Linked DNA regions of Homo sapiens. The protein of the gene in region 1 purifies or fractionates together with the protein of each later gene. This does not show direct contact. Each region holds a gene or a part of one and is shown in the gene's direction. Other genes may lie near its edges.

Evidence for each region. Proteins that work in one complex are often made in the same cells at the same time.
Region 2: the proteins of PHACTR2 (region 1) and TCEAL4 fractionate together in Homo sapiens (co-fractionation; one large-scale study listed by BioGRID). This does not show direct contact.

The regions. Positions count from the first base shown.
Region 1 is NC_000006.12:143,764,965-143,768,464, forward strand, and holds part of PHACTR2 (phosphatase and actin regulator 2), read left to right. Parts: intron 1-296; coding exon 297-834; intron 835-3,500.
Region 2 is NC_000023.11:103,584,106-103,588,229, forward strand, and holds TCEAL4 (transcription elongation factor A protein-like 4), read left to right. Parts: upstream 1-1,409; 5' UTR 1,410-1,519; coding exon of another isoform or gene 1,520-1,655; intron 1,656-1,753; exon of another isoform or gene 1,754-2,022; coding exon of another isoform or gene 2,023-2,196; intron 2,197-2,543; coding exon of another isoform or gene 2,544-2,570; coding exon 2,571-3,218; 3' UTR 3,219-3,624; downstream 3,625-4,124. UniProt on the Homo sapiens protein: May be involved in transcriptional regulation.

The DNA.
Region 1 (3,500 bases):
CAAGGGGCAGAAGATTCTCCCTTTGGCTGGCTCAGCTAAAGACTAAAGTGAGAGAAGACAGAGGACTCTTGTTCCTCTGAGTTTTGCCGTAAATATCACTTGCTCCTTGCTGGATTGGAGGAAGGGAGGGGCAGAAGACAAGACTATTATCATGATTAGCCTATTTTCTCTTATACATTTATTCAACAAACTTTAAAGGGAACATTTTAAATGTTGTTGACAGTTACACCTTGGTTACTTTATTTTAAAAAGCATTGTATTCTTTGATTTTTTAATGCAAGGTCTCTCTATTGTAGCTGGCTCCTCTCATTCAAAAAAAACAACTGGCTCTAAAGCATCAGCTTCGCCATCCACTTCATCCACCTCATCTCGTCCCAAAGCTTCAAAGGAGACAGTTTCTAGCAAAGCAGGGACAGTGGGGACCACCAAGGGCAAGAGAAAAACTGACAAGCAGCCAATAACTTCTCACCTGTCCTCAGACACAACAACTTCTGGCACATCCGACCTGAAAGGAGAGCCTGCAGAGACCAGAGTGGAGAGTTTCAAACTCGAACAGACTGTCCCTGGAGCTGAGGAGCAGAACACAGGCAAATTCAAGTCCATGGTCCCTCCACCCCCTGTGGCTCCAGCACCTTCTCCTCTGGCCCCCCCTCTCCCTCTTGAGGATCAGTGCATTACTGCCTCAGACACTCCAGTTGTCCTCGTCAGCGTTGGAGCTGACCTGCCCGTCTCTGCCTTAGACCCAAGTCAGCTTCTTTGGGCTGAAGAGCCGACGAACAGAACCACTCTCTACTCAGGCACTGGCTTAAGTGTTAACAGAGAAAATGCAAAATGGTGAGTTGGGGAACAAACCCCCTATTTTATCTGAGAACTAAAGATCACTAATATATTCTGTTGGAAATGAAGCACCGGGTTTGCTTTCTTATATAATTTAATCTACTGAGTGTTAGGTAGGCATACATGTGATCCAACCATTGCTTTGTCAGAGCCCTGCCCTGGGAATGCCTAGGGCTGCTGGAGAAAATTACATTGGTAGAGCTGACAAATACCACTTGAGATCAATGTTTTCAAGTACACTTAGAACCTGCTTCAGCACTGCTCAGCAGTCCACAGTTCCCTTCTCTTTCCTTTCAGTGCTTATTTTAAATCTTTACTTTACCATTGTGCTTACCTACTCATGTCAGCAAGTTACTGAGCCTTCCCCTTCACCAAGAACATAAAGAAGATCAGAAGAGAACTCTCAAATTTGAACTCTTTTTTCTCCATCAGTAGAGTTGTCCCCTTTCTTGTTCCTTTAAATTCCCACCCAGCTTAAATGTTATGTCCTCTGTGAAGCCATTCAGTACTTCTAGACAGAATTGGTTATTGTGTCTACTATACTTAACCCTGTGGGACAGAATTAGCCAACATGTCTTACATAAGACACCTCTGTGTGCCCAGCAACCACTCCAGAGTCTGATATGCCATAGGCACACAAAGGATGCTCATTGAATTGTTGAAAGAAAATAAAAAAGGGATTTAAGATGGTTATAGATAAAGTCAGCCTACTTTAACATTGCGGAAGCAGCATTGAAGATAAGATGACCCTATTGCTAGATTTTGTAGAGTATAATGGAAGATAAAAGATAGTGCTCAAGTAGTCTTAGTTTCATTTAAGAAGGTACCTGAACAAAATGGGCCAAGGAACTCAATGTTACCTCACCCTCATCCAGTTGGTGGGTTAGTTGCTTTACCACCACCCAGTTGCCCAAGCTGGAAACCTGGGGTTCATCCAAGGGTCCTCATTCTCTTTCATTCTTTGCATTTCATCACTCACAAAGTCCTATAAATATTCTACTTACAGGTAAATAAAACATATTAGCCCTGTCTCACGAGTATGAAGGGATGGATGGCTGTCAGAGTATAGTAGACGCAATGATAAATTCTGTCTGGCAAAGGCTTAGAGCTCTTGCATCCTGGCTTTTTGCTCCTGAGTCTAAGAACAAAACCTGTATTCATTGTTCAAATCATGTAAAAGGTTCTCTTTCAAAACAATCTGTCATGTTAGACTTAAAAAAAATTATTACATTAATTAGGTTGGTTTTGGTCAAGAAACTAAAATATCAACTTTAATTCTTTAATTGCTAATGATAATAACCTTTATTTATTGAATACTCATTTAGTGTCAGGAACTAAGCACTGTACATGTATTATCATTTTATTTACACAAGTCTTCCCAAAAGTATCCCTGTTTTATAGATAAGAAAACTGGCACTGAGAGAGCTAAAATAGTTTGCACCAGACTGCCCAGTTGGTGGTGGTGAAGCCAGAATGCATACCCAATTCCATGCTCTGAATGAATAATTTCATGTTTTCCAAAGCAGTGGCTTCTACTTCTACTGCCATTTCTCTTCTGTTAGTTTCTTTGGGTTTTTTTAAGTCATTTTGAGCACCAATATTTGAAGGACAGCCAAGAAAAAATAAATGTCAAATTACAAATTAATTTATTTTCTTTGTTTGACATTTTAATAAAAGATATGGGAAAAGAAGATTTATTGAAATGAACGGTTATGGTGTCTTTCTTAGGACATTTTGTGCTGCTGTAATAGAGTACCTGAGACTGGGTAATTTATAATGATTAGAATATTGGCTTACAGTCCTAGGGGCTGAGAAGTCCAAGATCAAGGCAGCAGCATTTGGCAAGGATCTTCTTTCCATGTCATCACATGGTGGAAGGTGGAAGGGCAGAGAGCACAACAGAGTGAACCTACCCCTGTGAGCCCTTTTGAAAATGGCATTAATCTATTCACGAGGGCAGAGCCTTCATGACTTAAACACCTCCCACTAGGCCCTACCTCTCAACACTTTCACACTGAGGATGAAGGTTTTTGTTTTGTTTTGTTTTGTTTTTTGAGACAGAATCTTGCACTGTCACCCAGGCTGGAGTACAGTGGCATGATCTCGGCTCACCTCAACCTCTGCCTCCCAGGTTCAAGCAATTCTCCTGCCTCAGCCTCCCCAGTAACTGGAACTACGGGTGCCTGCCACCACGCCTGGCTAATTTTTGTATTTTTAGTAGAGATGGGGTTTCACCATATAGGCCAAGCTGGTCTTGAACTCTTGACCTTGTGATCCGCCTGCCTCAGCCTTCCAAAGTGCTGGGACTACAGGCGTGAGCCACCATACCCAGCTAGGATTAAATTTTAACCCATGAATTCTGAGGGACACATTCAAACCCTAGGAGCATTCTTAATACTTCCAGCACACAGCAAATGTCTTCATTTAACTATAGTGAGTATTTTCCAACATTGCCATCACTTCCAACCATTAGAACTGAACATTCATTCTTACAGCATATATTTTTTGATTGCCTTTTCTGTGCTGGGCAATGTACTAAGCACCAAGGATACAAAAGTGAGCAAGGCAATATAGTTAAGACTAGCTTTTACCAAAATATTGTCTGATGTGCCCAGGAAGTATAATGTTTAAGGTAACATCTGAATTTTGGGAACTAGATTGGG
Region 2 (4,124 bases), on another chromosome or scaffold:
TTAGTAGAGATGGGGTTTCACCATCCTGGTCAGGCTGGTCTTGAACTCCTGACCTCAGGTGATCCACCCGCCTCAGCTTCCCAAAGCGCTGGGATTACAGGTGTGAGCCACCGTGCCTGGCCGATATTTTTATTTTTAAATAATTTACAAAGTTGATCTTCAGAAAAATTTCACCAACATATTCAATAAGAGCAGGGGAGAGTGCATGTGTCCCCAGTCCTTCAACAAATCTGTTAAAAATTTTCATGTAATCTAATCTATCAGCATTTGTCTCTTTGTTGTACAGTCACACTGCGTATCGATTGGTCAACGACAACGGACAGCATAGAATACGATAGGCTATAGTATGTAGCCTAGGAGTGTAGTAGGCTATACCATATAGATTTGTATAACTACACTCTACGATGTTCGCACCACCACGAAATTGCCTGATGCATTTCTCAGAACATATCCCCGTTATTAAGTGGCACGTGACTATAAAGGCCTTCCACACCAAAAGCTTATGTGGAGATAAACGGAGTCTACCCATAAGAGAACAAACAAGTGCTACTTATTCACAGCTTTTTTATAGCAAGGAAGTCAAGCCACCATCATTTGAGTCTGGCAGAGATTCAAAGACAGGCAGGGGAGTGGGAAAGCTTTATAGTGGAAAACAAAAACACAAAGACTTCAGCTACGCTCTGATTGGATGTTGTTGACGTGAGGAAGCTAGAGGCAGGCCAACTAGAGGCAAGCATCCTATGTGATTGAATATGGGTTCATATTTGGGTTTTTCTTGTTTGTCATCAGGTCAAAAAAATTAAAAAGGCCAGAAAGGCTAGCAAATTGATTAAAGTCCTGAACATTTCTGCAGATGCTATACTTTGGCTTTTTGAGCTGCTTGCAGCAAAGGTTGTGGGTCACAGTTCTATTTTCGTATGTGGTCTGGTCATTGTATATTCAGTTTCTCACTTAAGATAAATTAATCGTTGTTTTATTTTGCTTCAAATATAACTTTATTTTTTATTCATTTGAAAATTTATGTTTGTACATGTCAGGAAAAAGGGACAATTTCATTTATTTTGGAAAATTTTTCTTAAGTTTTTTCTAAAGGGCAATATTCTATTCTTTATACAGTACTTAAGTTCACATTCATACGATTTTATCGGGTGGGTCTACGTTATTTCAGTGGAATTTAAGAGCAACATTATCAAGACTCCTCTTCTGGACCGCCCAACTCATTAAAAAAAAAACTGTGATTTTCATTAAGATTCTTTCTTTGATTAATTTCTTAACAAGAAAAAAAGGACAAAAGGGCCCAGGGAGGTAAGAGGGTACCTGCTGGAGAGGTGGTGGGTGGCTGGAAGCGGCTGGCTAGGAGGCGGGGCGTGGGGCGGTGGAACTCCTGGGCTGCGGCATTCACGTGATCTGCACGGGCGCAGATGTAGGCACCGGTCCGAGTGCCTGCCCTCTGTCCCCGCGGCTGGGTCTCGTCTGCTCCGGTTCCTGGGCTCCTAATTCTTGGTCCAGCTTCTTCCAGGTCAGTGTGCGGGCCTTCCACGCTGCCAGCGGAACACTGGAATGGCGGAAGGGGAACGGGTACGGCAGGGGGAAAGGCTGGGGGTGGGGTCGGGTCGAGTCGAGGGAAGCTGGCCCGAGTGTGGACAGAGATGGCGGTGGGAAAACGGCTAGGGGTGGCTGAGGGGGAGCACGTAGGCAGTGGGCAGAGGGTGAGGAAGGCGAGCACCCCCAAGTATCCATGCTCGCTTTCCAGGCACATCCTCTTCTCTGCCCTCCGTCCATTTTGGAGCCGGAGATGGTGGGCTGGGGCCGCCCCAGTAGTGAGACAGTGGAAGTAAACCCCATCTGCCGTTCCCGTGCGTAGAGAAAAACGTTGACCGCGAGGCTGGGGAGGAGAGTTGCCTCTGAGGAAGAAGGGCACAGAGACCCAAAATTAGTTTGGAAAGCATCCTGATTTGGTGCCCGAGGCCTGGAAAGAAATGGCGGCTGGGGTGCGGCGGAGGTAGGGGAGGAAAACGTTGGATGAGAAGGGCCTGGACTCAGGAAAGGGAACCGCGTCCGTGTGAGCCCGCTGAGCGCGCAGACCCTGCCCCTGTCTCCTGTCTGTCTGCAGGTCTGCGCGTCTGTTGTTCCCAGCGCTCTGCGAAGCCTGAAAAGGAGGAGCAACCTGTCCAGAATCCCCGCAGGTCCGTGAAAGTACGGGGCTGCATGGACAGGGGCCCACAAGGGTTGAGAGTGTGGAGGGCCCGGCCAGGGCCGAATTGGGGCCTTTCCCATTCCCCCACCCACATGAACACACACCTTACCAGGCTGAACCAGTGCAGAGAAAGTGGCAGAGCCTGTCAGGCAATGGCTGGCTCACGTGTGTGGGAGGAGTGGCGGGCTACGTGGTGGGCAGAAGGCCCTCTTGGAGGCCTGGCCAGCTTAGGGGAACCCTCATCAGGGGTGAGATGCAAGTACTATCCAGACCTGCATTCCACCCCATGCACTCAGTCTCCCATGTCTCCTCTTTGTCTCCTCTTTCCTCCACCCCCATCCCCCAGGACAGGAAAAGGAGGGGAAATCTCGACATGGAAAAACTCTACAGTGAAAATGAAGGAATGGCTTCAAACCAAGGAAAGATGGAAAATGAAGAACAGCCACAAGACGAGAGAAAGCCAGAAGTAACTTGTACTCTGGAAGACAAGAAGTTAGAAAACGAGGGAAAGACAGAAAACAAGGGCAAAACAGGAGATGAGGAAATGTTAAAGGATAAAGGAAAGCCAGAGAGTGAGGGAGAGGCAAAAGAAGGAAAGTCAGAGAGGGAGGGAGAGTCAGAGATGGAGGGAGGATCAGAGAGAGAGGGAAAACCAGAGATAGAGGGAAAGCCAGAGAGTGAAGGAGAGCCAGGGAGTGAAACAAGGGCTGCAGGAAAGCGCCCAGCTGAGGATGATGTACCCAGGAAAGCCAAAAGAAAAACTAATAAGGGGCTGGCTCATTACCTCAAGGAGTATAAAGAGGCCATACATGATATGAATTTCAGCAATGAGGACATGATAAGAGAATTTGACAATATGGCTAAGGTGCAGGATGAGAAGAGAAAAAGCAAACAGAAATTGGGGGCGTTTTTGTGGATGCAAAGAAATTTACAGGACCCCTTCTACCCTAGAGGTCCAAGGGAATTCAGGGGTGGCTGCAGGGCCCCACGAAGGGACATTGAAGACATTCCTTATGTGTAGTGTCCCTGGCAGGCATTTACCAGGCCATGTGCTTTAACGTTACGGTAATACTTTACTTTAGGCATCCCTCCTGTTGCTAGCAGCCTTTTGACCTATCTGCAATGCAGTGTTCTCAGTAGGAAATGTTCATCTGTTACATGGAAAAAATGTTGATGGTGCATTGTAAAATTAAAAAACACAACTTGCAGAACCAAATATATGGCATCAGTACATTTTTGTAAAACTACAAAGATACTTACCTAGTAATATAGTATAGAAAACAATTCTGAAAGCTGTGTCCACTAAAAGATTAACAGTGGTTATCTCTGGGTGATTTTTTCTGTTCTTTTTTGTTCATCTGTCCATTTTTCTCCTAAAAACAGATTTCTTTAGTCATAAAAATAATAAAATATAAAGTATTGGAAAACAGTGAATATTTGAATTTCATTCATTTGAATAAGCATTCAAATGAACTGCCCAGTGAACTTATAAAGACAGTGGATATACTTAAAATTCTTGTGAGGACATAAAATGATAGGTAAAAGTTGCATTACCTCTGGGACTGGAAGCTGGAGGAGTCAACTCGATGGTTATTACAGAGCCATTGCTGTAAGGGACAGCCTTGACATCTGTGAAATGGGGATAAAATTAGCCTAGACATGTGGAGAAGATCAAATGAGGTATTGAGTGTGTGAGCTGTGTTAGGCTGGCTCCTACTCTCTCCCCTTGCACTAGCAGAACCAGTGCCCAGTCAGATACTTGGGAAGGGCTGAAGGAGGGTCTCACCTGTGCCCAGAAATAAGTCCAGACAGCTGAGAGATGGGTGCCACTCTTCCTGGGTAATGCCATACTTGAAAGGTAGTGTGCCCCTTCTCATGGATCCTGCACCCTCCTAAGGCCCCAGCTGCTGCTGGTGGGCTGAAGACC